Linked DNA regions of Homo sapiens. The protein of the gene in region 1 interacts with the protein of each later gene in a biochemical or structural test. Each region holds a gene or a part of one and is shown in the gene's direction. Other genes may lie near its edges.

Region 1 (6,904 bases):
TTCATTCTTGAAGTCAGCGAGACCAAGAACCCACTGGAAGGAACCAACTCCAGACACACCTTCACTGATACAATGTGGGGGTGAGGCCAGGTGCAGTGACTCACTCCTGTAATCCTAGCACTTTGTGAGGCCAAGGCAGTGGATCACCACTTGAGCCCAGGAGTTCAAGACCAGTCTGGACAACATAGTGAGACCTCACCTCTACCAAAAAAGAAAAAAAAATTAATCAAGTGTGGTGGTGGCACATCTGTTGTCCCAGTACTTGGGAGGCTGTGGTGGGAGGATCACTTGAGCCCAGGAGGTCGAGGTTGCAGTGAGCCATGATCACACCACTGCACTCCAGCCTAGGGAACAGAGTGAGACCCTGTCTCAAAGTAATAACAACACTAATAAAAAATAATAAAGTGGAGGTGGGGGAGAGAGATGGGGAAAGCAGGACAAATAGAAAGCAAATACTCACCTGGCGTGACTACATCCAGAGATAGCAGCAGTCATCACCGTGTGACCAGCTGACCTGCACAGTTCAAAGACAAAGGCAGGTTCAACATCAATCTACCACTTGACTGAACAATCCACTCCTAAGCGGTTACCTTAGAGAAATGAAGACACACATTTACACAAGCTTGCATATAAATGTTTAGAGCTGCTCCATCATAATCACACAAAGCTGGAAACTACCCAAGTGTCCTTCAGTGAGTGAATGGCTGAACAAACCCTGATCCAACCAAACAATGGAATACTACTCGGCAATCAAAAGGAAATATACTGCTCTCTCTCGCCCGCATGCTCTCTCTCTCTCTCTCTCACACACACACACAAACACACACACCAACATGGATGAAGCTCAAAAAGTATGCTGCGTGAGTGTGAAAGAAGCCAGACAAAAGAATATATACGGTATGATTCCATTTATAATAAAATTTAGAAAAGACAGAAATCAGATCAGTGGTGGCCAAGGGCAGGGGGTGGTGGGAGTGGTTGGCTGCACACAACATTCACCAAAACTCCTTGAACTGTAAACCTCAAAAGGATGAATTTTACTGTATGTAAATTATACTCCAATAAAGTTGATTTTTTTTTTTTTTTTTTTGAGACAGGGTCTCACTCTGTCACCCAGGCTGGAGTGTAGTGGTGTGATCATGGCTCACTGTAGCCTCAACCTCTTGGGCTCCAGCGATCCTCCCACCTCAGCCTCCTGAGTAGTTGGGACTACAGACATGCACCACCATGCCTAATTTTAAAATTTTTTTTGTAGAGACGTGGTCTCGCTGTGTTGCCCAGGCAGGTCTCAAAGCTGATTTTTAAAAAGACAAGAATTGTTAGACAGAATCAAACCAAACCAAAACCCAACTATGTGCTGTTTCCAAGCGCTACACCTGAGATATGAAGACACAGAAAGATTGAAAGGAGAACAGAGAAAGACACGTCTGGCTGAGCCCACCCCGCCTGCCTGCTGGCACTTCCTTACTGCCCCACTGTCGTCTGTGGCTTCTGCGTCTTCTGCATGCTCATCACAGGGTCAGAGTCTGGGGCTTCCCTTGTCCAGTCCACTGTGTCTATGAGGGCTGGGTCACAGGGAGCAGGGCTGTGAGAAGCACTTGACGTTGAAGGGAAAGAGACAGTCATCTGTCTACTTGGTGTCCCCCTAACCTCCAACAGCAAGCACATGGCAGTGGGGGGGTGGCTTGCCTCTTGTTCAGGGCCAGTCCCTCCTGCTTCTCCTGGGACTTGCTCTGCCCTTGGTCTTCTGTCACTCTTGCTCTTGCTCCCATTGGCTCCTCCACTTCATTACATGGAAGTGAGAATGGGCATCGTGGTCAAGCAGAAGGGAATTCAAGTCCGAGTTCTGCCATTTACCTTCTGGGCTATCTTGGGTGGGTCATTTGACCCCTCTGAACCTTGGTTTCCTCATCTGTGAAATGGGGGCACTGATAGTGCCAATTTCTTCCTGGTTGCATGACTGCCCCTCTCTGGACCTTGGGTACCTCACTGGGAGAGTGAGGATAATAACAGCACCATCATCTGGGGTGTGTGTGTGGATGCAATGAGCCAGTGGAGAGAAAGAGACCTTCCTAACTGTGCTTGCTGGACCCAGCCTTGAGCTCTGTGGGCTTTGGTTTTCTCATCTGTAACGTGGGGCGAATGCTTCAACAGACCTCCCCAGGTTGGTGTGCAATTTAAATGTGCAGGAAATGTAACGATGGCAGGTCCATGGCTGTGCTCAGGAAATGTGATGTCGTGTAATCCTAGTAATGAATTTTTTGTTACCATAAATGGACCCATCACTACACATTAGCAGGTGCGTATAAACGGGCTCTATTCCCTGCTTACTTCACCATCCTGATGGGCATCAAACCCTAGATTAGGTAAAGGATTTGCAGAAGTTGGGGCTTGGAGGAAAGGCTGGGAACGTAGGGAGTGAGTGGAGGCAGCAACTGGAAAGGAGAGAGGCCTATCAGAGTTCAGATCAGCAAAGGCAGGAAGCTGACCACAGCTCAGTGCCTCATGGAAAGTACGCCCTCTTGGCCCAGCTCATGAGCCTGCTGGCCTCGTGACCCAGGCGGGCTCAGTTTCCTCTGCTGTCACCTGAAGATGCCCTGCAAGTGCCCCCACTCTGGAAGCAGTCTCCCTAGCCGTCCGTCTTCACTCAGGTGCCTAGTCTTGTCCATTCTCCTCCTAAAGGCTGGGCAAACATGGCATCCAGACCCTCTCTGAGCACAGATGGGTCCACCCCAAGCTTCCCATTCCAGGGGAACTGAAGCTGGCACTATGGGGGTGGGGCATCCAAGCCAGGATGCCAGGGCTGCTCCCATGTGGGCCCTCCAGGGCCCCACACCACTTGGGGAGTCTTGTGAGACTGAGTCGAGGGCCCCTGGAATGCTTCACTGGGCAACAGGCATGCCCATAAAAATACCGTGGCCGCCAGATCTGCAATCTGCCATCGGGGCCCTAGGCCTTCCTAGCCCTGAGGCTGCAGCCAGCTCGCCGGCTCCGGAATTCTTACCCCCTCCATTTTGCTTCCTCGCCTGTGAGGTCATGGCCTTGAGCCTAGGAGGGGGCACTGGGGAGGAGCTCCTTCCTTCTCGATCCTGTGCAGGGCTGCGGGGGAGAGTGGGAGAGAGTGGAGTCGGCGGGAAAGGTCGAATGGGGCCAATCCCGAGGACAAAGAAATAAGACACCAGAGAGCTGGAGGAAAATCTGGGAGTTGGGGGTGGCAGTTCGAGGGATACCCTCTCCCAGACCCTGTCTCCCCTGGGCTCGCCTCCTACCCTGCCGCCCACCTGGGCTCTGGGGTGCGCAGGAGCCGGTGCTCCGCGGCGCCTCCCCAACACGCTGAGGACGAAGCCCCCGCACCCCTCCCAACAGGACCCTGACTGGGCCCTCAGGATCGGGGGGCATTCGGGAGAGGTCCCGGGAGTCCTGCCCTGTGTGTGTGTGTTGGGGGGGCGTTGCGTGCAGGTGCCCATCGCTGGCCGGCGCCGTCGAGGGCCAGGCCGAGGCTAAGGGAGCATCCCCTTCCTTGCCGGACTCCTCTCTCCACCGCCCGGCCCCAGGCCTCTGGGAGCACTCTCGCCCCGCGATTCCCGCTCCGAGCTTTCACAGCGGGCTCCCTTGCGCTGGGGCTGAGGACACTCTCCGGCCGGAGACTCCCGGTCTGCGGGGAAGGGGGTCTGGCGGGACCCGTCGGCTGGGGTCCCGCTGAGCTCCCGGAGTGGGCTGCCCGGGGGCCCCCAGCCCAAGCCGCGCTCGGCTGGCACCAGGGGCTAGGGTGCGGCGGGGCGGGGCGGGGCGGGGCGGGCGGCCGGGGAGGTGATCTCACTCCTCCCTCCCTCTCCTCCCCGGCGCTCCCCTCCCCCGCCCCTGCGCGCACGCCCGCCCCGCCCCGCCACAGCCGCTGCTGCCGCAGCATCGGCATCGCAGACGCGCTCGGGCGGCGGGTCCGAGGCCGGCGTGCGCGGAGGCTGGGCGGGCAGCCCGAGCGGTGGCCGCAGCGCAGGTAAGGCGGGCTGGCCTCCCCGTGCGACCCGGGCCGCGGCCGCGATCCCCCGGCGACACCACACCGCTCTGCCCGGGGTGCACGGACCAGGGAGTCCCGGCCCGGTCCGGCCCGCGGTAACCGGCGTTGCTGCCGGAGCCCCACCCATGCCGGGCGTCGGGCTCCGGGCACCGCGGGCTGTAAGCGGGGCGGGGGAGGGATGCCGGGTGCCCGAGCCCGACAGGTGAGGGGTAACCTGCGGGGCCCCAGATGCTGGCCTGGGCGGGAGAACAGGGCGGGGGGCGTCAGGCAGGGTCTGTGTGGGCAGGCGGGGGCTGAAGTTGGCGGGTCCCCGTGCGTGTGTGCGTGTCTGAGAAAGGAAGCCAGATCGGGTCGAGCGCTCCCCCACAGGCCGCCGTGGGGTGTGGCCCTGGGCGTGGCTGCCCCTCATCCCCAGCCGAGAGCTCAGTTTGGTTGAAAATCCCGGCTGACAGCGTGGTGAGGGGTAGATCGGGATAAGCCGCCCCTGCAATGGGGGGAGGGGAGTGAACGGGACTGGGCGCTGCCTGCCCCTCCGCCCCAAGGTTGGGGGGGCTTTGTTCTCCTCCTTCTTCTTTCCAAATCCCAGCCTGGGCTCCTCCGGGCTCACCCGAAAACCTGCCGCAGAGCCAGGGGCTCCTCCCCGGAGGCGTAGGGCGCCTCTGGAGCCCGTTTCCACAGGCTCTGTGGCCAGTCAGGGCTGGAGTGGGTGAGGTCGGTTCGGGCACCCACTGCTGTGCCTCCCGTGCATGGGTGTCCATCAGGTAGGGTCCATCAGGTAGGGGTGAGGGAAGGTGGGCCTCACTGGCTCAGGCGGTCCCTGCGCACTGCAGGTCTTTTGCCCACTGCCACATCTTCCTATCTCTGTGCGGTTATGGGAGGGGTCAGCGATTCCTATTCCCTCCATTCCAGGTCAGACTTTTGGGGCCTCTTGGTTGGCAGGGATTGCAAAGAACACGCACTACAATCCATTGCCCCCGACAGGGTATCTGGACCCCCCACCTATCACTGTCCCTCTCAGGAAGGCAGGCCTAGAGCCATCTGCCCCCTTCTCCAGAAGGAGTGGGGGCCTGGCACCCCCCAGGTAGATACCCTGCCCCTGTTAACCCCACCCTGAGGGCAGGGGCATCGGGGCAGCCCAGTGCCATCTCTGCTGACTCATGTGGCCCTGACGTAAATCAGTGCAGTCCGCCCTTCTTCCCCTGGGGGCTGCTGCCCAGCATCATCTTTCTGGGGCGGGGGCCTCCCCAGGGCCTCTCCCCTCCCGTCAGCTCCTTGCTGCAGGTGGTGGGACTTGGCCCAGCCTGGCCTCTCCCCTGGCACAGCTCCCATGCAGTGCCCACATGTGCACACCTGAGGGCTCCAGAGCCTTTGAGGACTCGGCTGTCTTGGCCACATGGGAAGTTTGGGGCAGGGTTGGGCCTGGGACCTTCCCACCTCCTTGGCTCCTGGTCATTTCTCTCTGCTGCATCTGAGTCTCTCTCCATATTTATTGATGTTTGTGTGTGTATGATCCCGAAAGTAATACATCTTATTGTAGGACACTTGAAATATACAGAAAAGAACAAAAGAAATTAAGAATCGCTAGTGATCTGATCACCAAGAGGGAAACACGTTCAGCACGCCCCAGCCTCCCTGGTTTGCTACACCGCGCTCCTAAAAGGCTCCTCCCCAAGTTCCCAGCTGCCAGCTCCCTGCTGAGCATCAGGAGGACAATCAGCGCTTCAAGGTGGCGGGGTCCCCTGCCCTGCAGCCAGTGAAGAGCTTCCCTACCCAGGCGCTCAGGATCCCAGCGATGGGCAGTCGTGTACTGGGCAGCTGCTCATGGCCAGTGCTCCTTTGGGCCGGGCTCTGGGCTGCCCATGGAAGAGCCAGTGACAAACTGGACCAGCATTGTCCCTGTCTTCGTGGGGTGTCACTTGTTTTCTTTTTTCTTGATGATTATCTGAAGGGAAAAGGGAGGCAAAGAGTGAGGAAGGGCCTGGCCTGAGGGCTCCTACAGTGAGCAGGGTGCCCAGATTGTGCCCCCAATCGGCCTCTCCCAGGTCCGAGCCCTTTCCACCACTGGAACTACAGCTGGCGCCTTCCTTGGCATGCACCTGGCCAGGACTGGCAGGTGAGGGTCGAGGAGACAGGCCTGTGTGCCCTACCTTGATCACCAAGTTCCCTTTCAAAGCTCGAAATGGCTGCACTGAGTGCTTTTCTGGGTGTGAGGGTGATGCGGCCTCGCAGAGTGGCCCAGGCTCCAGGAGGGCACGTTCATGGGAGAACCTGGGGTAGTGGTGGGGTCCTGTGAGGAGGTCTGCCAGGATGGGGATCCCAGCCAAGACCCTGGTCTGCCAGGCATGAGTGGGGGCATGAGTGGGGGCCCTGCCTCCCTCCCTCGTGGTTCAGACAGTGGGGGAGGCGGGGGGTCTGGATGCCCTTCTAGGGTCCCCAGCAGGGTGCTCATTGCCCTGTCCTCTGCCCCTGCAATGGGCTGGGGCTGGGTCCCTGGGTGGGGCCATCTGGAATGGGCCTGCAGCATCCCTGCCCCTGCAGTCGCTGTCTTACTTGCTCTGATCTGGCCCATCTCGGACACCTCCTTCTCCTGCTTCCCCCGCCCCCCTGCTCTCTCCTCTGCAGCCTCCCACGTCTCCCTGTGCCCCACCCCCAGGGCCATCACCTTCCTCCTCCTTCTAGGCAGAAGCCTGCTGCTGCCGGGGATGGGGTGCACCACTCCCCGTCTCCTCCCTCTGCCTCTGCCTGCCTGGCCCTCCCTTCCCTCTTCCCCCTTCCCGTCAGGGCTCTGCTCCATCTCTCTGCTTACCCTTTTGTCTGTCTTCCACCGCTCTGCTCCTCTCCTTGTCCCCCCCAGCTGCCCCTGCCTCACCCTTGAGGGCCCTGAGG
Region 2 (7,293 bases), on another chromosome or scaffold:
ATGGCTGAGTGTGGTTGTATATGGCTGGGTGTGGTTGTGTATGGCTGAGTGTGGTTTTATATGGCTGGGTGTGGTTGTGTATGGCTGGATGTGGTTGTCATTGGCTGGGTGTGGTTGTGCATGGCTGGGTGTAGTTGTGCATGGCTGGGTGTGGCGTGTATGGCTGGGTGTGGTTGTGCATGGCTGGGTGTGGTTGTGTATGGCTGGGTGTGGTGTGTATGGCTGGGTGTGGTTGTACATGACCAGGTATGATTGTGTATGGCTGGGTGTCATTGTGTATGGTCAGGTTTGGTCATGTGTGGTGGGTGAGACCTGTGTGTGGCCAGGTGAGGTTGCATGTGAGCCACCTGTGCTGTTAGTGTGGCTGGGGTGTGGCTGGGGTGTGACTGTGTGTGTCAGTGGTTGTTGGTGGCATTGTGTGTGACTTACCCATGTGTCACCTTGGGCATGTTCAGAGGCACTTTGGAGGCACTGTCCACCCCTGAGACCCAGCTCTCTTGGAGGGTCCAGCCTCCCTCCCCACCTCTGCTCTGGTCTGCCAGTACCATCCCCCACCCCTCCCCCACTGGCAGCAGCCCCTGGCCCAGGGCCCCAGTGGGGTGGTGGGGACAGAGAAGGCACTCAGGGCTGGGGAGGGGTGCCCAATCCCAGCTCAGGCCTATAAATAGCTCTTTGAGCCCAGTAGATTCCCAGGCAAGGTTGCCTCATTCAAGCCCCCGGCAACAGCCCGCCCCTGGGCCCCAGGCCAGCCCCTCTAAGCTCAGCCCTGGCACCAGCGAGGAGCCGGGGGGTGGGGGCAAGGGGTGGGGAGGAGTGGAGAAGCGGGGGAAGCAGAAGGATGAGGATAGGTGGGGTTGGGGCTCAGCTCTGCGCCCACAGACCTTGGCTTCCACCTGGTCTCTACTCACTCTGTACATCCTCGGGCAGGTGATCCTAGCTCCTTAAGCCTCAGTTTCCCCAGCACCTGTAAAATAAACAGCAGTCCCTGCCTGTGTGTTTACTTCCCATTTCATTCTCCAAGCAACCGGTAACGTAGGGACATTCATTATCCCCCATTTTATTTATTTATTTATTTAATTTTTTCCCAAGATGGAATCTCACTCAGTCACCCAGGCTGGAATGCAGTGGTGCCATCTTGGCTCACTGCAACCTCCACCTCCTGGGTTCAAGCGATTGTCCTACCTCAGCCTCCTGAGTAGCTGGGATTACAGGTGTGCACCACCCCACCCAGCTAATTTTGAATTTTAGTAGAGACGGGATTTCACCATGTTGGCCAGGCTGGTCTCAAATTCTGACCTCATGATCCATCTGCCTTGGCCTCCCAAAGTGCTGAGATTACAGCCTTGAGCCACCGCGCCCACCCTCCCCCCATTTTATTTTATTCATTTTTGAAATAGGGTCTCACTGTGTCACCCAGACCAGAGTACAGTGATGCAATCTTGACTCACTGCAGCTTTAATCTCCTGGGCTCCAGCGATCCTTCCCCCTCAGCCTCCCGAGTAGCCGGGACCACAGATGTGTGCCACCATGTCCTGCTAACTTTTAAGTTATTTTTTGTAGAGATGGGGGTCTCACTGTGTTGCTCAGGCTGGTCTTGAACTCCTGGGCTCAAGTGATCCTCCTGCCTCTGACTCCCAAAGTGCTGGGATTACAGGCATGAGCCACCGGCACCTGGACTATCCCCATTTCAGATGGGGAAACTGAGACACAGAAAGATGAGATGGCTCACTCAGAGTCACATTGTTACGAATGGCAGGGAGGGGGTTTGAACCCCAGACTTGTGGAGGCTGAGCTACTCGGTTCTCACGCACGTCACGCAGCTGTTCTCAGCGTCTTTCCCAGTGTGAGCCACAGCCAACCCCCCAGCACGCTCCAGCCTCACCGACTAGTCATTGCATGCTGTTTGGGTGCTGCTGACACAGCTGTCACCTGCAGACACTCACATCAGCTGGGATCCTTGACCTCCATCTCTCCTCTGTGACACAGAGTCAAACAGTCAGTGCAGCTTCCCGCTGTATCATCTTGGACCCCAGGGCTACCCCTTGCTCACCTGGGGTCCCCCCTTATCCCTCATTCATTCCTACCCTTTCTTTGATAATCTTTTTTTTTTTTTTTGAGATGGAATCTTGCTCTGACACCCAGGCTGGAGTGCAGTGGCACAGTCTCGGTTCACTGCACGCTCCGCCTCCCAGGTTCAAGTGATTCTCCTGCCTCAGCCTCCTGAGTATCTGGGATTATAGGTGAACACCACCATGCCTGGCTAATTTTTGTATTTTTAGTACAGACAGGGTTTCACCATGTTGGCTGGGCTGGGCTGGTCTCAAACTCCTGACCTTAGGTGATCTGCCTGCTTCAGCCTCCCAAAGTGTTGGGATTACAGGCATGAGCCACGGTGCTTGGCCTCCTTTCTTCTTCTTTTTTCTTTTTTTGATGGAGTCTCACTCTGTTGCCCAGGCTGGAATGCAGTGGCCCAATTTCGGCTCACTGCAACTTGCGCCTCCAGGGTTCAAGCGATTCTCCTGCCTCAGCCTCCCGAGTAGCTGGGATTACAGGCGTCCGCCACCACACCCTAATTTTGATTTATTAGAGATGGGGTTTCACCATGTTGGCTAGGCTGGTCTCGAACTCCTGACCTCAAATGATCTGTCCTCTTGGCCTCCCAAAGCGCTGGGATTATGGGCGTGAGCCACGGCACCTGGCCAAGGCCTCCTTTCTTTGATAACCTTGTGGAAGCTATCTTGTCCCTCATTTGCCTATCCTCCTACCAGATGGACACGCACCCTCAGAGATGCTAAACACACACTCACAGATATAGGACCCAGGGTGGAGCGCTGCGAGCCCATTCTCAGCACAGAAACACCACGACCATAGGAAGGAAGGCAGGGGCAAAGCCTGCCCTCTCTGGGCACATTTCCCTCCTCATGGCTTTTTTTTTTTTTTTTTTTTTTTTGAGACGGAGTCTCACTCTGTCACTCAGGCTGGAGTGCAATGGCATGGTCTCAGCTCACTGCAACCTCTGCCTCCTGGGTTCAAGCGATTCTCCTGCCTCAGCCTCCTGAGCAGCTGGGATTACAGGTGTCTGCCAACACGCCTGGCTAATTTTTGTATTTTTAATAGGGAAAGGGTTTCACCATGTTGGCCAGGCTGGTCTTAAACTCCTGACCTCAGGTGATCCACCCGCCTTGGCCTCCCAAAGTGCTGGGATTACAGGTGTGAGCCACCGAACCCAGCCCTCATTACCATATTTTTAATGGTGGTCAAATACAGATAACATAAAACTCACCATCTTAAAATGTGTAATTCAAGGCCATGCGCGGTGGCTCATGCCTGTAATCCCAGCATTTTGGGATGCTGAGGCGGGCGGATCATTTGAGGCCAGGAGATCGAGACCAGCCTAGCTGACATGGTGAAACCACATCTCTACTAAAAATACAAAAATTAACTGGGTGTGGTGGCAGGTGCCTGTAATCCCAGCTATTCAGGAGGCTGAGGCAGGAGAATCGCTTGAACCTGGGAGGTGGAGGTTGCAGTGAGCCAACATCGTGCCACTGTACTCCAGCCTGGATGACGGAGCAAGACTCCGTCTGAAAAAAAAAAAAAAAGATTGGGGTCTCATGTCTCATGGCAGGGACATGCCTATGCCTCTGCATAAAGCAAAATTATTCATGTGTCAACAGCAGTACCCAGTCCATAGAGTGTGCTACATAAATGCTGATCAGACAAAGGTGAATGAATGAATGATACAATCTGGCTGTAGTTGCTGGAAACAGCTCGGGGGTGTCACACACCTGGACTCCCACCCTGCGTGCCTCTTACCAGCTGTGTGAACAAGGAGTCTCCCCGTCTCGTCCGTGCCTCAGTTTCCTCTCTGTAAATGGGGTAAACCAGTAATTGTAGCCAAAACTGCTTTGAACGTGAGTCCTGGAGAATCAGGCAGGGCGAGGTTCGAATCCCAGCTCTGCCTCTGTGCGTGACCTTGGGAAGCGACTTTGCCTCCTTGGGGCTCAGTTTCCCCACCTGTAAAATGGGACGGCCTCATCCTGGGGCATAATGGGGACGTTTAACGCGGTTCCTGGGGCAAAGAGAATGGGAGGAGAATCGATGCCATCTTCTCCTGGGTGCGGTGAGTGTCCAAAAAATGGGCGGGGTGGGGATTTTAGGCAGGGGAGCCCCCTCCCTCGCGCAGCCAGAGGCCTCGGGCTGGCGGGGGCGCATGCGCAGAGAGCCCTCGCGGCCCCTTTATAAGCACTGAGGCGGCGCTGGGGCCAGCGGAGCGCAGGGCGCAGGGGCTGGACCCGGCGCGGAGCTGGCTGAGTCGGAGCGCAGCGTCCTTTGTGCCCGGCGGCCGCCCCGGGATGCGTCCGAGCTAGGAGCCAGGTGGGGGATCCGTGAGGGGGCCGTGTTGCGGGAGAAGACTTCGGGATTAGAGACAGAGCTCAGGATTAGGGAGAGGACCTGAGACCAGGGAGAAGTCCCCAGAATGGGGAGGGGGCTGAAGCGGGGGAGGGGAGCCCTAGGTTGAGGAGGGAGCGCGAACTGGGAGGGGGCTTGGGAATGCTAGGTGAACAGACATTTGGGGAGGAAGGTTGTCCGCGGAATCCGGAGACTACCCCCCGGTGGGGAGGGGGCCGGGCTGGGGGTGGGTCTCAGGGTTGAGGAGGGAGCAATGGGAAACAGGGCTAGGGGAGGGGCCCCCCGAGTTTGGAGGGAAGAAGAGGACACCCAGATGCCGAATGGGGGACTCTGGAACAGGGCACCCCCGTATCTCAGCCGAGACACCCCAGGATTTTAAGTAGGGATTCCCAATTTGCGGTTGAATGGAGGATTCCGGGCCGGACTGCAGTGGGGAGGGGGCCCCCAGATCACCCTGTGCCCAATGGAAGGGTATCTGCGCTGAGAGCGAACGGCCATGGGGAAGGGGCTCCCTGCCATCTCCCTGTCCTTTTGGGTCAGGTCCGGTCACCACGTTCTGACTCAGGGAGGAGGTCCTGGGGGTCCCCATCCCAACGTGGTTCCCCGTTATTCCCTTAGACCTTGGGTTGAGGTGTTGTCCCTTATCCCAGGGAACACACTGGGTGTCCCAGGTGAATGTTGGGTGGGGGTCCCCTAGACCCCCCAGCTATGGATCCCCAGGACCTGTGAGGGATACCAGCTCAGAGGGGGGGCTGTCCCCCAGCACCTTCACAGCCTCCCACGTCCTTACAGCATGACACAGACCCCTACCCCCACCCCCTTTAGTTCCACCTGTCCATATGGACACATGTGGAAGCGCTGGCTTGGTTTGGGGGCACAGGGGCTGGGAAGTAAGGGGCTGGGAAGTAAGGGCCCTGTCTGGGCAGGAGAGACCCCCATCCCTACGCGTGGGGCTTTGTTCCTCTCAGGCAGCATCAATGAGAAACAGCCAGGCCAGGGAGAGGGTTGGCTCTGGGCCCCAGCGGGGGACGTGGGGGCAGGGCAGGCAGGAAGGGGTGGGTGCACTGTGGGACCCCAGAACCCAGCCGTCGCAATAGCTGATGGACATTCTGAAATCAAGTTCCCCCTCAAGGATATGGGGGTTTTGTGTGTGTGTCCACCCCAGACAGGCAGGGAGGGGGAGTATGCCCAGGGGTTCTAGGGTCCCCTGTGAGTCTGATGTGACTGTGGTTGTGTCTTTGTCAGAAAACTTGTGCCGAGGGCCACATCACCATGTGGCAAAATGATGGGTGTCCATCGGTCACCAAGGCCACAATTATCCATCTCGGTTTGTGCCAGGGGCTGGCATCGCCGTGTGAGTGAGGAGCTATGTCTGATGCTGTTCCGTTCATCAAGGGGTTTATGTGGGGGGGGGGGGGCCCGAGACTGTGGGTGTGTGTCTTTGTGCAGAAGACACGCCGCCTGTCTTGTAAGTGCCCATATTGTCTCTCTTTGTTAATGTCACTGTGAATCTGTGTGAGTGTGTGTTTCCCCAGGGTCTGTGTCTGGGGTGCGTGGCTGTGTGTGTCCCGCTTGTGTATCTGGAGGGGCCAAGGGTTCTTTCCATGCGGTTGGCAGTGTGCACCCTTGGCACGGGGGTGTGGGACGTGGTCTGTGTTCAGAGTTGGGGCGCTAACAGGGAAAGCTTGAGCAGGGGTTGAAATCCCCAAGGGGAAGCCCGGGATGATGACTGAGCCCATCTCCCTTTCTCCTCCACGGAGTTCCACATTCACACCCATGCACACTAATACACCCTGACTCTCAGGTCAGAAACACACACATGTGCGCACAGCCCCCTGCTGAGGGTCACTCAGACTCACACACATCCACAGATCACACTAGGTCCCATGTGCTCCACCCGGTGCACGGAGCTGCTGCAGGCTCACACACACAACATGCACCCACCACATGGCACAACCGCCTTCACACCCTTGCCAGGACACAACACCCCGGACACACACCCAGTCACAAACACTCACAAATGCCCATTGGCAAACTCACCTTCACTCAGTGCTAACGGAGACTTGAGGTGGGGGTGAAGTGAAGGAGGGGACACACACACACTTACACACACACACTCACACACACTCTCTCACACACACACATTCACATGGATCCGAGCTGCCCCTCCTCCAGCACCCCGCAGGCCCCTGCTTGCATATGCATGAGGCTTGTACATTATTCATGAGGGCACGGGCCCCAGACAGCTGTGTAAATGCTCATCTCTGGCCGCCCTGGGGAGGAGGTATTTTAAGAGAAGGGTGTGGGTGTGTGAGGGTGCGAGTGGAAGGGAGTGGGAGGGTGTGTGTGGGGGGTGTGCACCTGAAACTGTGTCTGTCACCATGTTGGGCAACCTCAGTATATTTTTAGCGTATACATGAGGCTTTGTGTCTAAAGAGCTGTTTTTAAATTTAACATTTCTAGGACTTTGCAAGTCTTAGGTCATTTCATCCTCACAGTAGCTGCAGGTGGTACTTGCTGGATAATCTCCATTTTACAGGTGGGGAAACTGAGGCACAGAGAGATTGAAGCAGCTTGTCCCGGATTAGAAGCAGAGCTATCTGGATGTAGTCTGACCTGTTAACGGGGTGTGTGTGTGTGTGTGTGTGTGTGTGTGTGTGTGTGAGAGAGAGAGAGAAAGAGAATTCTCTGGCCTTGTCCTCTCGTAAGGCCCTGCTGGGGGCAGGTGCAACCCGGAGTCCTGTCTCTCTCTAATACCTGGCCAGGCCTGGAACAGCCATGAGGGGACCCCACACTTGCTCAGGGTTCCAAGGGGAAGAAATGAGAACAGCCTGGTGAAGGCAGAGGTTGCTGAGGTTTACAAGTTGGTAGTTGGGAGCA
Region 3 (7,025 bases), on another chromosome or scaffold:
CCACTGTTTCTCTCTTTTGGGTGTTTCCATTTTGCTCTAGCTGGAACATTCTCCTGGCCAGATCTAGTGGGGAAAAAGTTCAGGTCTTTGTTTTTTTCACCTACCCTGATTGGTTAACTATAATGCTTCAAGTTCCTTTTCCTTCATCTTTTTCCAAATGACCATGCAATGCTGGACTCATTTTATCCAGTTTCTTTTGCCCCTTGGTCTCTCTGCCTGTCTGAATTGCTGCTGAATATCTACAGCTCCTTATTCTTTTATCCTCTGCAGCCCTATTTCCTGATATTGGTAGAGGCACAGTCCATAATGAGAAACTCTAGAAGGGAGTCTATTTTGCCCAACATCTCACAACTTAACTAGCAGCAGGGTAAAAATGAAGCCTCATTTCTTGGCTATTACTTTCTTTTCTACACCAGTCTTCATTCAAATATGATAACAGCTTAATCTGAGATAAAACTGAAAGGTTCCAAGGAACTGTATCATATCCTATGAATCTTTTTCTTCTTTCTCTTTCTTGACTGGCTACACTGACCTGCTTAAAAATAAGTGGCCATGGTCTCTTTTGCATTCAGGTATACAACAAACAAGCTGATGAGTATCTGAAAATATATACATGTGTACATATAGGCTTAACCACATAGATATTGATAAACACTGCTTATGCCACCTGCATTGGTATTTTTCATGTAGAAAAATAAAATGTTTTTTTCTAGGCTCACATTCTACTTGACTGTGGTGAAGACAATGTCTGTAAACCCAAGCTGGAAGTTTCTGTAGATAGGTAAGTTTTGCTTGAAATAATAATGTAGTAAGAAATTTAAATGGAAGGGCACATTTTTCTATTCAAAGGACTAACATATTTTAACGAGAATTAGTTATCCTGGAGGGTAATGCCTGATTTTCTATAACACTAAAACTATCAATATTGAGCTTCTAAAGAAAATATCCACTGTGTTTTCACTAGTTGCCTAGGTTGAAAGAGTTATTACCATTCAACTTTGGGTAATATCACAAAATAATATTGTATCATTTTAAAGATACACTTCATCATAAACATTCTTTGAACTCAAGGAATATCCTTACCATTTTGTAAGGCATATGAATTATAAAGAATATTGTGAGAATTATGACACGTGATTAATTTAGCTTTTAGAAAAATATTGGGGAATTACAAAGTACATGTAATTCACTTCAGTAATAGATATGAATGATAGTGATATATTAGTGGCATCAATGTTTATTTTTATTGAGAGAAGCATTCGATTTGCACCCAGTGTGCTATTTTCTGTTTTCTATCAAGCTGTGAAGTAGTCTTAAAATACCTTGAGACACTGTTGAACATGTCAGTGCTGTGTATTTATCTCTTCTTTCTTTGAACAGTCATACTTTCCCCATGTAGTCTTTTTTTCTCAGTCTGGATTTGTATTGTTAACTTGTAGTGATCAAAAGAAGATCTATATTGGGGATGACAACCCTCTGACATTGATTGTTAAGGCTCAGAATCAAGGAGAAGGTGCCTACGAAGCTGAGCTCATCGTTTCCATTCCACTGCAGGCTGATTTCATCGGGGTTGTCCGAAACAATGAAGTAAGCAGGCTGCCTCTTTAAAAATTGAAATGCACTCACGGATCTTATTAACATTAATGAGCTGTTCCCCTATTTAGTGAAGCACAAGCTTAGCTATTCTACCTAAGGCTAAATTGATAGACAATGGAGTGCCTATCTTACATAATTCCTTTTAAGCCTAATACTTTGCATAATGCATTGATATGACATTTTTAGAATTGCAAGCTAAGTGCCTGGAAACAAGGTTAGATAGATAAAGTGTCTAAGCCTGTCCATCAAATTATTTGTCAGAGGCTGTATGGTTTTGTATGGTAGTCCTCTAGGGATCTTTCAGAAACACTTCTGCATTTCCATGTGGCAATTGTACCCAATTCTGGCTTTTTCCTTACCTCCTGGTTTGCTCAACTAGATTTATTTGCTTAGGACAAGAAACTGAAATATCCAACTGCGTGATACTTTATTTCCTTTCATATCCATTTTTTTTTTTTTTTTTGGTCTATCAAAGGCCTTAGCAAGACTTTCCTGTGCATTTAAGACAGAAAACCAAACTCGCCAGGTGGTATGTGACCTTGGAAACCCAATGAAGGCTGGAACTCAAGTAAGACAATTTAATTAAACGGATTTTTCTCCCTGGCAAATAGAAAAGCATATTGTTGTCTGGGCTCATAGTAATTTTTAAAAATAAACACTTCAAAACAATGTCCTTAAATTGGTTTCGATATAATAGTTAAATGATTAGCAGAGTTTTGCTTAGTTTTAACTAAGATACGAAAACAATTGGTTGTGCTCCTACACGGTTTGCAATCAGCTGCTCTTTATGCCTCCTTCACTTTAGTGAATGGATGAGAACGTGGTTTAAACTAAGGACTGAAATAATAATTTTTGCTATTTTACACTGATGCCTTAATGGATCCTGAAAAGCTACTCTGGCAACTACCAAGACTGTCAATCCTAGGTGAGCTAGATTCCATCACAGGCCCCACACAGAGGATCAAAGTGAAGGTCAGTTAAATCAGGCTCCCCTTCAGATGGTGGAGCAGGGTGCCCAGGAGCTTGAAAAGAAGCAGCCAATGGCTTGCTTTCCGAATCCTCTAAAAAGTAAACAAAATATACCTTGTAGAATTTCTAGTAGCAAGGACAAAATGGCAGCATATGCTGTGTGACTTTTTCAATAGAATTTATTTAATGACTTATTGATACTGGTACTTTGAAGATCTGTGGTAATACAGGTCTAAATATTCCATATTTCTTTAGTATGTTTTCTATTACAAGTCATTAGTATTTCTAGATGTATGGTATCTTAGGGATGAGAACTTGAACAAATTACCCTAAGTTCAGTTTTTCACGTGTATTCAATGTTTTATTAACAATGAGCATGCCTTTTATTTTCTCATATTCTCATTCTCTCTAACTTTCTGGTTATTATATAGTTTCTGCTTATTACAAGTAGCCAGCTCCAGGTTTTGTGGAGTGGGAGGCAGAACCCAGGAAGTACTGTTTTTATATGTCATTTGTGTGATCCCCAAGAAGCCTTCTTTTTTGTACCTGGTGGTTCAATTGTTTTATTTAAAATCTACCAATTTTCTGCCTGCAGGAATTAGGATATTTGGTGTTGGGAGTGTTATGAGAGGTGTGTGGAGAAATTCTGGTTGTGGCCCTACTCATGCCTTCTTTAGCCATGTTCCCTTACTCTAGTAAACCATCCATTTCTTCTTTCCTGGCCTATGAACACAGCACATACTTTGGTGGTTAGCTTCGTGTTATCAAATTATTGTACCCAGTTGCTAGACTTTCACTGGATCAACAAACATTTACTTTTGCACTTTTTAGAAAGATGGTTAGTATTATAAGGAGGTATAATTATGATTAATAATTGTTGTTAAATAGGCTCTCTTATGGATTGGTCCAGGTATATTAAGTAAAATAGGTTTGATAGAAAATAAGATTTAGTTATCTTTGTTCAGTTTTATTGTAAGCTCAGAAAAACCCCATTTTAGAACATTATTTTTTATTTAGACATTGGATTTGAAATTTTGCTAATTAGACATTGACTAGCATTACTATCTTTTCCTCTCTCCTTTAGCTCTTAGCTGGTCTTCGTTTCAGTGTGCACCAGCAGTCAGAGATGGATACTTCTGTGAAATTTGACTTACAAATCCAAAGGTATGAAAACAACTTATATTCACTTATAACTATCAAATAAATATTATTTGTTGTAAATATACTATGTAATATACTTTAAATATAAAGTAGCAGATTAAATTTTATTGCTTGACTATAGCATTTTAAAATCAATATTTACATTATAAGAATAATTTTATTGTCAGATTTGAGTTTGTAAAACAAAATTTAAAATCCAGAAAGAAAATGTTCATCTTCTTGGAATTAAGTGTTAATGAAAATAACTATTTTGAGGTATAAGCTTTACACTTGTTTCGTTTGTTAATTTTTAGTTTCACTGGGTTTGCCTCTGTATGTTCTTGGTTGTTATGCATAATTCATTTTTAAGTTTTTTTTTTTCTTTTTCAGCTCAAATCTATTTGACAAAGTAAGCCCAGTTGTATCTCACAAAGTTGATCTTGCTGTTTTAGCTGCAGTTGAGATAAGAGGGTCAGTATGAATACTTAGTTGAGTATCTCATTCTCATGATTGCTTTTTAAAGGTAACTGTCAGGCCTTAGCCTTTTCTGGACAATAGACCCTGCATGTTTAGTGGTGGTTTTACTAGGGCATTAGCTTCTGTAGAAATAAAATCCTAGGTATGTTCCAAACCCCCAATACTGGGTGATCCTCAAAAGGAACAAGACATGGCAACAACATGCACAAAATAATTTTGTTGAACTTTTACACAAATTGTCAATTCACCTGTTACGTGTACATTTCATAAGAGCAGTTTTTGTGCATGTGTGTGTTCATTAGTTTTCTTTTAAAGTATTTTTTAAAATTAAATCTAATTTTATTTATTTGAGTAATGAATATGGGGTACTTTTGAAAATGAACTGACTATATCATTTTGATATTCATGGTAGGTTTTCTTTGGTCATTGTTTAGAGTCTCGAGTCCTGATCATGTCTTTCTTCCGATTCCAAACTGGGAGCACAAGGAGAACCCTGAGACTGAAGAAGATGTTGGGCCAGTTGTTCAGCACATCTATGAGGTTTGCAGTTGTTAGATTTTACTCAAACCTCGTGAGCAAGCCAACGAAGAGAGGAACAACTAAGCTACTTTAAAAAAAAAATTCTATGTAATTTTTATGTAAACTCTACATTGGTTAAGTATGTGTCAGAGATTTCTTTGAATATTTTCCCTATACATAAATTCATTTTTATTTGACAAATAGACTTGTTTAAATAAAGCAGTTTATATAATTTGTTGTTTAAAATAAATTAGTTCTACTTGAATAAAGAAATGTCATTGGTACTTTCTCATGGGCATTTTGTAGTTCTGGCTAAAAATTGAAAATACCTATGGCAAATAATCAAAACTATTTCTATAGGAAGAAATTTTCTTTGTCATCCTTCATTAATAACTTTTAAATATTTTGCCTTTTGTTTATACATACATACATATATATATATATATATATATATATATATATTTTTTTTTTTTTTTTTTTTTTTTTTTGAGGTGAAGTCTTGCTCTGTCGCCCAGGCTGGAGTGCAGTGGCGCGATCTCAGCTCACTGCAAACTCCACCTCCCGGGTTCAAGCGATTCTCCTGCCTCAGCTTGCTGAGTAGCTGGGATTACACGTGTGCACCACCATGCCCGGCTAATTTTTGTATTTTTAGTAGGGACAGGGTTTCACCGACAGGTTTCACCACGTTGGCCAGGCTGGACATGAACTCCTGACCTCAAGAGATCCGCCCGCCTCGGCCTCCCAAAGTGCTGGGATTACAGGCATGAGCCACTGTGCCCAACCTTGTTTATATTTTTATCCTGACACATATTACTCTGTGTTAGAGACAAATGTTGAGTTTGATCATTTTTGCATAAAAATGGTCACATTGTAATTAGAGGTTAACTGTGGAAATTGCTGTTATTTAAAACCTATTGCTAACATGATTTCTAAAGTTGATGTAGGGGAAGGATTATGGAACAGATTTTTGCCCAAGGTGTAGATACATTTTCTTTTTTCTCCTTAGCTGAGAAACAATGGTCCAAGTTCATTCAGCAAGGCAATGCTCCATCTTCAGTGGCCTTACAAATATAATAATAACACTCTGTTGTATATCCTTCATTATGATATTGATGGACCAATGAACTGCACTTCAGATATGGAGATCAACCCTTTGAGAATTAAGGTAATATGCTTAATAGCAGCTCTTCATTACAATGATATTTCATTGCCTTCTTTCTAAACCTGTAAAAGAAATTCATAAAATAAAACAACTATTTTAATATAAAACCCACTCTGCAAAAAATGGTTTAGTTCATAAGCAGTACACTTAGGATAAGTTCATTTGTATAATGGGTAAGAATTGATTCTGTGATGTCTAGTGAACCACATCTTCATAGAGTGCTTACTGAGCCTCATGAGATGTGTCCTTCAGTGACTCAGTTTGACCTTGGCTCCATCACGTTGTTGTTTCTTCAGGGCATAATATCACATCAAGGGTGTTTTGTTGTTAAAATTTCTACCTTTGGGATAAGCTATACCATTTTACTCATGATTATCTTGACTTTTGGATATAGTCATCTCCATCATAGATTTGCACTAGAAACTATTACACAATATGATCTAAGGAAAGGTGAAGAAACAAAATAAAAGATATACCCATGATTGACATCACAAATGTACTGTGGAATTTCAGGCCATTTCTGTATGTTTCATCAGTTTCCACTCTAGCTAAGCAAGGGCTGAAAATAATGGTTAGGGAGAGCTAACTTTTTTGGTACATATTAAAGACTCTAATCTTTATTTTCTGTCCTTACTGCTCACTATATACTGAGTGGTAAATATTCTGTCATACTAAATTTTCATTCACTATTTTTTAATCATATCTAAGAGTTTATATCAAAATGCTGATGTAAAATGTTTTTCATTATCATTTACCACCATTTTATTAATGTGATTGCATTAGATCTCATCTTTGCAAACAACTGAAAAGAATGACACGGTTGCCGGGCAAGGTGAGCGGGACCATCTCATCACTAAGCGGGATCTTGCCCTCAGTGAAGGAGATATTCACACTTTGGTAAGTGCCATTTCAAATATGTGCACCATAGACATTTAAAAATATGTGACTATAGAACTGACGCCAAAGAACATTTCAAAAATAACAACAGCTGTGCTTGAACAACTACATTTATTTTTATACCATGCATTCCTCTCACTTTCCTTTTTCCTAGTCAGATTAATGCCATATTTTCTTCAAATGAGCTATTTTTGTAGATGGCTAATAAAACTAGTTTATGTCCCAACTTTGATTCTCCTACTCTAGTTCTTTAACTGTCCTCTTT
Region 4 (7,025 bases), on another chromosome or scaffold:
ATTTCCCTGAGAGGTGATGCTAGGAATGTGAGCAAAGAAGGTAAATAATTTGTTCAATTTTTAAAAATAGTTAAATGATCTAGTTATGTAAACTTAGATGTCTAAAATAGCATATCCTAATATTTTCATACATAATTAAGTAGCTATTTTTCAAATAAGGTGCTTCCTTTCAGTTCCTAGTGCTAGTCTCTTAATCATGGTCTCCACTATACTTTTAAATATTTTCTCTCTAGTAAAATGTCTCTAGTCTCCAAATAATTGCCAGAAGCAGGTTTTTGGAGAGGCTAACACGTTACGATAGTCACATGGACAGAAGGCAGGCAGACATATCCAGGCTTGACTGTGGACTGTCCACTTAGTGTATGCATGACGGACCATGGATAAGACATTGAGACTCACTCTGATCTCCGTTTTCTGGTCTGTGAGGATCACCTTAATGCAACTATAATGAGGAGTCAATGAGAGGAAATTTGGAACACCCCTGGCTTAAACTAAGTGCTCACTAAATGGTACCCGTTAGACTAAAATAGTACATGGCACTCAATATATTGAACCTAGCATATGCCCCAGCAAGCAGAGCCTCTAATAAGACAGTAATTTCAAGTTTTTCTTCTTGATTATCAGAAGCAGATAATTTTCATTTTCTTGAAATGAAAATCAAAGGTCCCCTTGAGTAGAGATTAATGAAAGGAGGACTACAGTATTCCTGCTGGACTAGATGGTCCAGGAGAGCAGGGGACCTGTTTGCCTCATTTTCTGTTGTGTCCTGTATGCCTGGAACATAACAAATGCTTGGTGGTTACTTTTGAATGAAGGAAGTGCAGTTTTATGCACGCCTTCTGAGAAACAAGCGGCTGGACCTCAAATTTTCACCCTGCTGAGTAGTCACAATTCAATCTGGATTTTGTTTAAGCCTACCTAATGAAAGGTTACTGCTTGAACACATCACTTGGCTTCCAAAGCCACTAAAGCCCCAAGTTTTACCCTAATTTTTTGATTCAGAAATTATTTTTTAGAAATATAGTAATCCTGGACTGGGCGCAGTGGCTCACTCCTGTAATCCCAGCACTTTGGGAGGCCGAGGCAGGTGGATCACGAGGTCAGGAGATTGAGACCATCCTGGCTAACACAGTGAAACCCCATCTCTACTAAAAATACAAAAAATTACCCAGGTGTGGTGGCATGCACTTGTAGTCCCAGCTACTCAGAAGGCTGAGGCAGGAGAATGGCGTGAACCCAGGAGGCAGAGCTTGCAGTGAGCCGAGATTGTGCCACTGGCCACTGCACTCCAGCCTGGGCAACAGAGCAAGATTCCATCTCAAAAAAAAAAAAAAGAAAGAAAAAAGAAATATAGTAATCCTGGAAAATTCAGAGTTTGTCACCATATAGAGATATAAAGAAAATAAGATTGGAACAAACCATTCTGCTTTATAGGTGATTGATGAAGGGCATTTTCATTATTTTGACAAAGTAGGCTTCATCATTTTGGCAGAGATGGAAATCACGTTGGGCAATGGCTGCTTAACACACTCTGAACTCTGCTATCTTCTGTTATTAACCAGAAGTCTGTTACCCAGCGCTTCAACACATATTCATGTGCTCCTAAGTCAATCAGAATTCACAGTGATGATCTCAGACACCATAATATCCAGAGGTACTTTCTGAGTCATCAAGGAGAGATTAAATTATGCTCATTCAGGGTCTCCCATCGAATGCAGTTATTACTTTCTCATTCGTTGGAAATTGGTTAACTGGATATTTGATTTACCAGTATACCTCAGTTTTTCCATTAAAGCTGAGTACAGAGATTTACTGTAAAATAATATCACTGAAAATAACGACCTCAATCCTCCATTACAAAACTCATTTCTCCCTTCCATCCTGAAGTGGTCTTAAGCTTTCCAAACAAGGCTGCCAAGTGAAATACAAAATGTCCAGTTAAATTTGACGCAGACAAACAAGACATAATTTTTCAGAATAAGTATGTCCCATGCAATATTTGAGACATATGTGTACTAAAAAATTATTCATTATTTCTCTGAATTCTAATTTCACTGGGCATCTTGTTTCTTGTTTTGTTGTTTATTTGCTAAATCTGGCAACACTATTTCCAAAGGGTTTGACCTGCACCGGGCTGACCTGTACCAGCCTGCTATGAAGGGACAGAGTTAAACGCTAGCATCTCATTCAAACCTTGAATTAATTGTTAATGTAATTTTTCTGCAAATTATTGTTAAAAGTGAGTCACATAGTTTTCAGTCAAAGGTAAATCAAGTTGCCTCTTCATTTTTTTTTTTTTAATGAGGCAGCTATATGGAAGGAATAACAGTCTCACTTTGCACCATGGATATGTTGGCTAAATGGGGACAGGGCATCACTAAGTCTATGAATACAGAAACTGTGCCCCAGCCGAGTCTGCATTAGAGAAAGGGCATTAATCTGGTGACGGTTCTGCTCTCCTTACAGTATTCAAGTTAATTATGTTTGCCTCCAAATGGTAACATCTGGTCCCCATTACCAGCTAAACATTGCCTTTCTAAAAGCTTGTTTGGAATCAGGCAGGTATGAACACCGTGGCCAAAAAATGGCACTCTATTTTTAACACTACAGTTTCATAGTCCCTTAGTAAAATTGTTTTTGTAAATCTTTTTTTAATCCCGACTGAGTATATTCTTGGTTTCCAGATCCCAGCCTGGAGCAAATACTGTGGTTAAGTTACAGGAAAGGGCAATTGAGAAAATGACAGCTGCCTTTCATTGTATTAAGTTGATTCATTCAACAAATATTTGTTGAGCAAATACTATGTATAAAACAGGGCATGAAGAGTCATATAAAACAGAAAAATATGACTTAGTTCGTGTCCTCAAAGAAGTTAAAATCTGGGGAGGCAGAAAGCAGCATTCCAAAGAACTAAATGTGCTCATCAGCATTTGAGGGCTGGATATGGTGGCTCAAGCCTGTGACCCCAGCACTTTGGGAGGCCAAAATGGTAAGATCTCTTGACCCCAGTAGTTTGAGAGCAGCCTGGGCAACATAGCGAGACCAAAAAAAAAAAAATTGCCAATCATGGTAGCATCCACATGTAGTCCTAGCTACTCAGGAGACTGAGGTGGGAGGATTGCTTGAGGCCAAGAGTTCAAGGCTGCAGTGAGCCATGATCACACCACTCCACTCCAGCCTGGGTGACAGAGTGAGACCCTGTCTCTAAAAATAAAAATTAAAAAAAAGGCCGGGGTGTAGAGGGGCCAGGCGCCGTGGCTCACACCTGTAATCCCAGCACTTTGGGAGGCCGAGGCAGGCATCACGAGGTCAGGAGATCGAGACCATCCTGGCTAACACTGTGAAACCCCTCTCTACTAAAAATACAAAAAATAAGCCGGGCGTGGTGGCAGGCGCCTGGAGTCCTAGCTACTCGGGAGGCTGAGGCAGGAGAATGGCGTGAACCCGGGAGGTGGAGCTTGCAGTGAGCCAAGATCGCCCCACTGCACTCCAGCCTGGGAGACAGAGCGAGACTCCTTCTCAAAAAAAAAAAAAAAGAAAGAAAGAAAGAAGGGAAATGCAGATAAAATGGTGTGAAGAGGCCCAGAAATGGAAAACTGTGTCCAGTTGCAGAGAACAGAAAAACTGAGTAAACGATGTGGCATTTGAAAACAGGTCAGGATTTTAAGCAGTTCAGATAATGGAAAAGGGTAACATGACAGGGAATTCCTTGTGGAGGGAACAGAAAGAAAGCTCCCAAACTCCCAGAAGTAAGGAAGTTCTTCATGCCAATTGGCACTGGTTAAAGGAGTGAATGGGGAGAGGCCTTGCAAGGACATGACATGGAAGGCCTGCATGCCTGACTGAAAATGACGTGCGTAATTTCTAGACAAGAAGGCACTGAATGTCTGAGTAAAGAAACGACATGATCTGGACCATAGAACTCATGTGGAAAGTATCTGAGTAATGAATTCTTAAGGTTCAGCTGATAATGTGGACTTAGTTTAATTGCATTAGATGTTTGCCTCTCACTTAGGGGTAGTTATATTTTTAGGCTAAATTTTTATTATATAACGCAGAATTGAGTTGCTTCAAAGAAAAATAGGTTATCATTCTTGCACATGTTCTTGATTAGGATGTACAGTTTCTAAAGGAAAATACTTGAAGTGTTGGACATTTTGTCATTAAGCCAGCGTTGAATTCATCAACAACTGATACTCTCCTTGTGCTCAGAAGCTCCTTGGGCTGCTTTAGAAGACATAAAAAGGTCTATGATGCTGTTCATTGCCTTTGAAGATCTTATAATCTAGCTGTGGGTACATGACTAACAATCTTAAAGCCTTAGAGAGCAGTGGAATGCTGAGCTCTGTGCTACTTACATCATATTTCTGAGAAGGGAGAGCTCAGAATAAAAGCTAGAGTAGCTTGAAAAGTTCTCTTCATGAGTCTTAAGCTGGGTTTTGAGCAAAGGCAATGATGAGGATGACGTCTAGACTGTATGAGAAGAGAATTGCTTAACTGAGATGTATTGTCAGTAATAGAAAATCAAATTAGGCAAATGGGATGAAGTCAAAATGAGGGTCTTGAATGCCAGATCGAGTTTTGATATCTTCCTATCAATAATGGAAAACCATGGTACATTTTCAAAAGATATCTCTTTTCTATTGTCGGGGTAAAATATACATAACATAAAATTTACCGCTTTAACAATTTTCAACCACTTTTAACCATTTTAATTTTATCATTGTACATTTTTAAGTGTACAATTCTGTCGCATTAAGTACAGTCACATTGCTGTGCAAGCATCACCACTATTTCCAGAATTTTATAATTGTCTCAGACTGAAACTCTGCACCCATGAAACACTAACTCTCCCAATCTCCATTTCCCCCAAGCCCTGGCAACCACCATTTTGCTTTCTGTCTCTACGAATCTGACTGATCTAGTGATAGGCTACTCCTATCCATGGAATCAGACCATATTTGTCCTTTTTTTGTTGGGCTTCTTTCACTTAGCAGTGGAGATTTTTGAGGATGAGAATGACATGCTTAAAACAACATTTTCTGAAAATTTAAGTAGCAGTTGGTGTAGTGGAGATTCAAAGTGGGGTCTGGGAGGCCAACCAAGAGCTGATGTAGCACCCTGGCCAGAGCGCTCGGATCAGGATAAATCCAGAAGAAAGGAAGGTAGCAACAAGAGTTCTGTTGCTTTCTTGTACTTAATAAAAACAACAGGATTTGGCAGCAAAACGGAAATGACGAGATGACTAGGCAGGAAGTGGATGATTGGTGATGCCACCAATTAAAAGACAGGGTTCAGTGAAAAGATGCAGTATCCAGGGGAAAGGACTGTCTTAGTCTGCTTGTGGTACATTTGAGATGACAGTGAGACATTCATGTGGAAAGTCCCCAATGCAATTAGAAATAGGGGTGGGGAGAACAGTTGTGGGGGATCATGGTCACTATTCTCCCACACTCAATTCAAATGCCACCTCCCCTGGGAGGTCCTCTATTACCTCTGCAGGCTGAGTATGCATTCGTTCTCTTTACCTCTGCATCACTGTCTCTTTACCTTTGTTTTAGCAACCTTCCTGCTATCGGATTGACTTCTATGCATATCTCCAATCCATCATAAACTATGAACTTCTCTTAAGCAGGGCCAGTACTTGATCCAGGGATGAATTCTGGATACCAAAGAGACTGAAATATGAATGTTAAACTTAGAAGATGTCAAAGCGGGGGAAATGTATGTTCTTATTGAAGATTTGCCTTACTGGGATGTGAGTTTAGAGACGGGAATTCTGACAGAGCAGGAGGAAGGTTTGAGGGAGGAAAGATTTACTGTAAAATAATCCAGAGACTGAAAATTGTATATGATTGGGTACAAAATCATGTCTTTATTCCATATGTTGTATTTTATTTCTTAGCATGGAGTCGCCCAGGAAATCATTTTACATTATCTGTTTCATTTCACTTCCCAGATTATCCTTGCTCTGGAATGTTGGGTATGGTGTCTGGACTTATTTCTGACTCCCAGATCACATCATCCAACCAAGGGGACAGAAACTGGATGCCTGAAAACATCCGCCTGGTAACCAGTCGCTCTGGCTGGGCACTTCCACCCGCACCTCATTCCTACATCAATGAGTGGCTCCAAATAGACCTGGGGGAGGAGAAGATCGTGAGGGGCATCATCATTCAGGGTGGGAAGCACCGAGAGAACAAGGTGTTCATGAGGAAGTTCAAGATCGGGTACAGCAACAACGGCTCGGACTGGAAGATGATCATGGATGACAGCAAACGCAAGGCGAAGGTGAGGGCTGGGGACTGGGAGGAGGTCATCCCTTATGTCCTTGACTTCAATCAAGGGCCTCTGGCATTCTCCCGAGGAAGGGCTTCTTATTTCCTTCCAGCCATGACATTAGAGGAGGTGTGTGATGGGGTCAGTAAGACCCTTGATTCTAGGAAGACAGGAATATGGCATGAAAAGTGATGTCTGAGATAACATGCAAAAGAATTGCATTGCTGGTCCCATTCCCTGGCTGTAGGGATGGACAGACAGCTCAACATGCAGACAGGAGACGGGGAAGCCCAAGGCTGACAGCAGCCATCCAGCCAGCGCTCAGAACCCCTTGCAGATACCACTCAGTCGTTTGGGTCTGCCCTCCCCCCATCTCAAACCTACCCCTAGTTTAAGTGCTTTGTTTCTTTTATAAATTTTTATTGTGGGCCAGGCTCAGTGGCTCATGCCTGTAATCCCAGCACTTTGGGATGCCGAGTCGGGCGGATTGTCTGAGCTCAGGAGTTCGAGACCAGACTGGACAGCACGGTGAAACCCCATCTCTACTAAAATACAAAAAATTAACAGGGTGTGGCAGCGTGTGCCTGTAGTCCTAGCTATTCTGGAGGCTGAAGCAGGAGAATTGCTTAAACCCGGGAGGCAGAGGTTGCAGTGAGCTGAGATTGCACCACTGCTCTCTAGCCTGGGTGACAGAGTGAGATTCCGTCTCAAAAAAAAAAAATTAATTGTGATAAAATACATATAAT

What was found.
Region 2: the proteins of L1CAM (region 1) and NCAN form a complex in vitro, tested with the Homo sapiens proteins (one study listed by BioGRID).
Region 3: the proteins of L1CAM (region 1) and ITGAV form a complex in vitro, tested with the Homo sapiens proteins (one study listed by BioGRID).
Region 4: the proteins of L1CAM (region 1) and NRP1 form a complex in vitro, tested with the Homo sapiens proteins (one study listed by BioGRID).

What each region holds. Positions count from the first base shown.
Region 1 is NC_000023.11:153,883,158-153,890,061, reverse strand, and holds the start of L1CAM (neural cell adhesion molecule L1 isoform 1 precursor), read left to right. Parts: upstream 1-3,888; 5' UTR 3,889-3,997; intron 3,998-4,084; exon of another isoform or gene 4,085-4,254; intron 4,255-4,625; exon of another isoform or gene 4,626-4,699; intron 4,700-5,788; exon of another isoform or gene 5,789-6,114; intron 6,115-6,165; exon of another isoform or gene 6,166-6,351; intron 6,352-6,904. UniProt on the Homo sapiens protein: Neural cell adhesion molecule involved in the dynamics of cell adhesion and in the generation of transmembrane signals at tyrosine kinase receptors.
Region 2 is NC_000019.10:19,207,688-19,214,980, forward strand, and holds the start of NCAN (neurocan core protein precursor), read left to right. Parts: upstream 1-4,270; 5' UTR 4,271-4,377; intron 4,378-7,293. UniProt on the Homo sapiens protein: May modulate neuronal adhesion and neurite growth during development by binding to neural cell adhesion molecules (NG-CAM and N-CAM). Chondroitin sulfate proteoglycan; binds to hyaluronic acid.
Region 3 is NC_000002.12:186,663,055-186,670,079, forward strand, and holds part of ITGAV (integrin alpha-V isoform 1 preproprotein), read left to right. Parts: intron 1-713; coding exon 714-781; intron 782-1,439; coding exon 1,440-1,587; intron 1,588-2,071; coding exon 2,072-2,164; intron 2,165-3,649; coding exon 3,650-3,729; intron 3,730-4,095; coding exon 4,096-4,176; intron 4,177-4,616; coding exon 4,617-4,722; intron 4,723-5,707; coding exon 5,708-5,866; intron 5,867-6,646; coding exon 6,647-6,760; intron 6,761-7,025.
Region 4 is NC_000010.11:33,212,652-33,219,676, reverse strand, and holds part of NRP1 (neuropilin-1 isoform a precursor), read left to right. Parts: intron 1-5,855; exon of another isoform or gene 5,856-5,959; coding exon 5,960-6,291; exon of another isoform or gene 6,292-6,439; intron 6,440-7,025. UniProt on the Homo sapiens protein: Cell-surface receptor involved in the development of the cardiovascular system, in angiogenesis, in the formation of certain neuronal circuits and in organogenesis outside the nervous system. Mediates the chemorepulsant activity of semaphorins.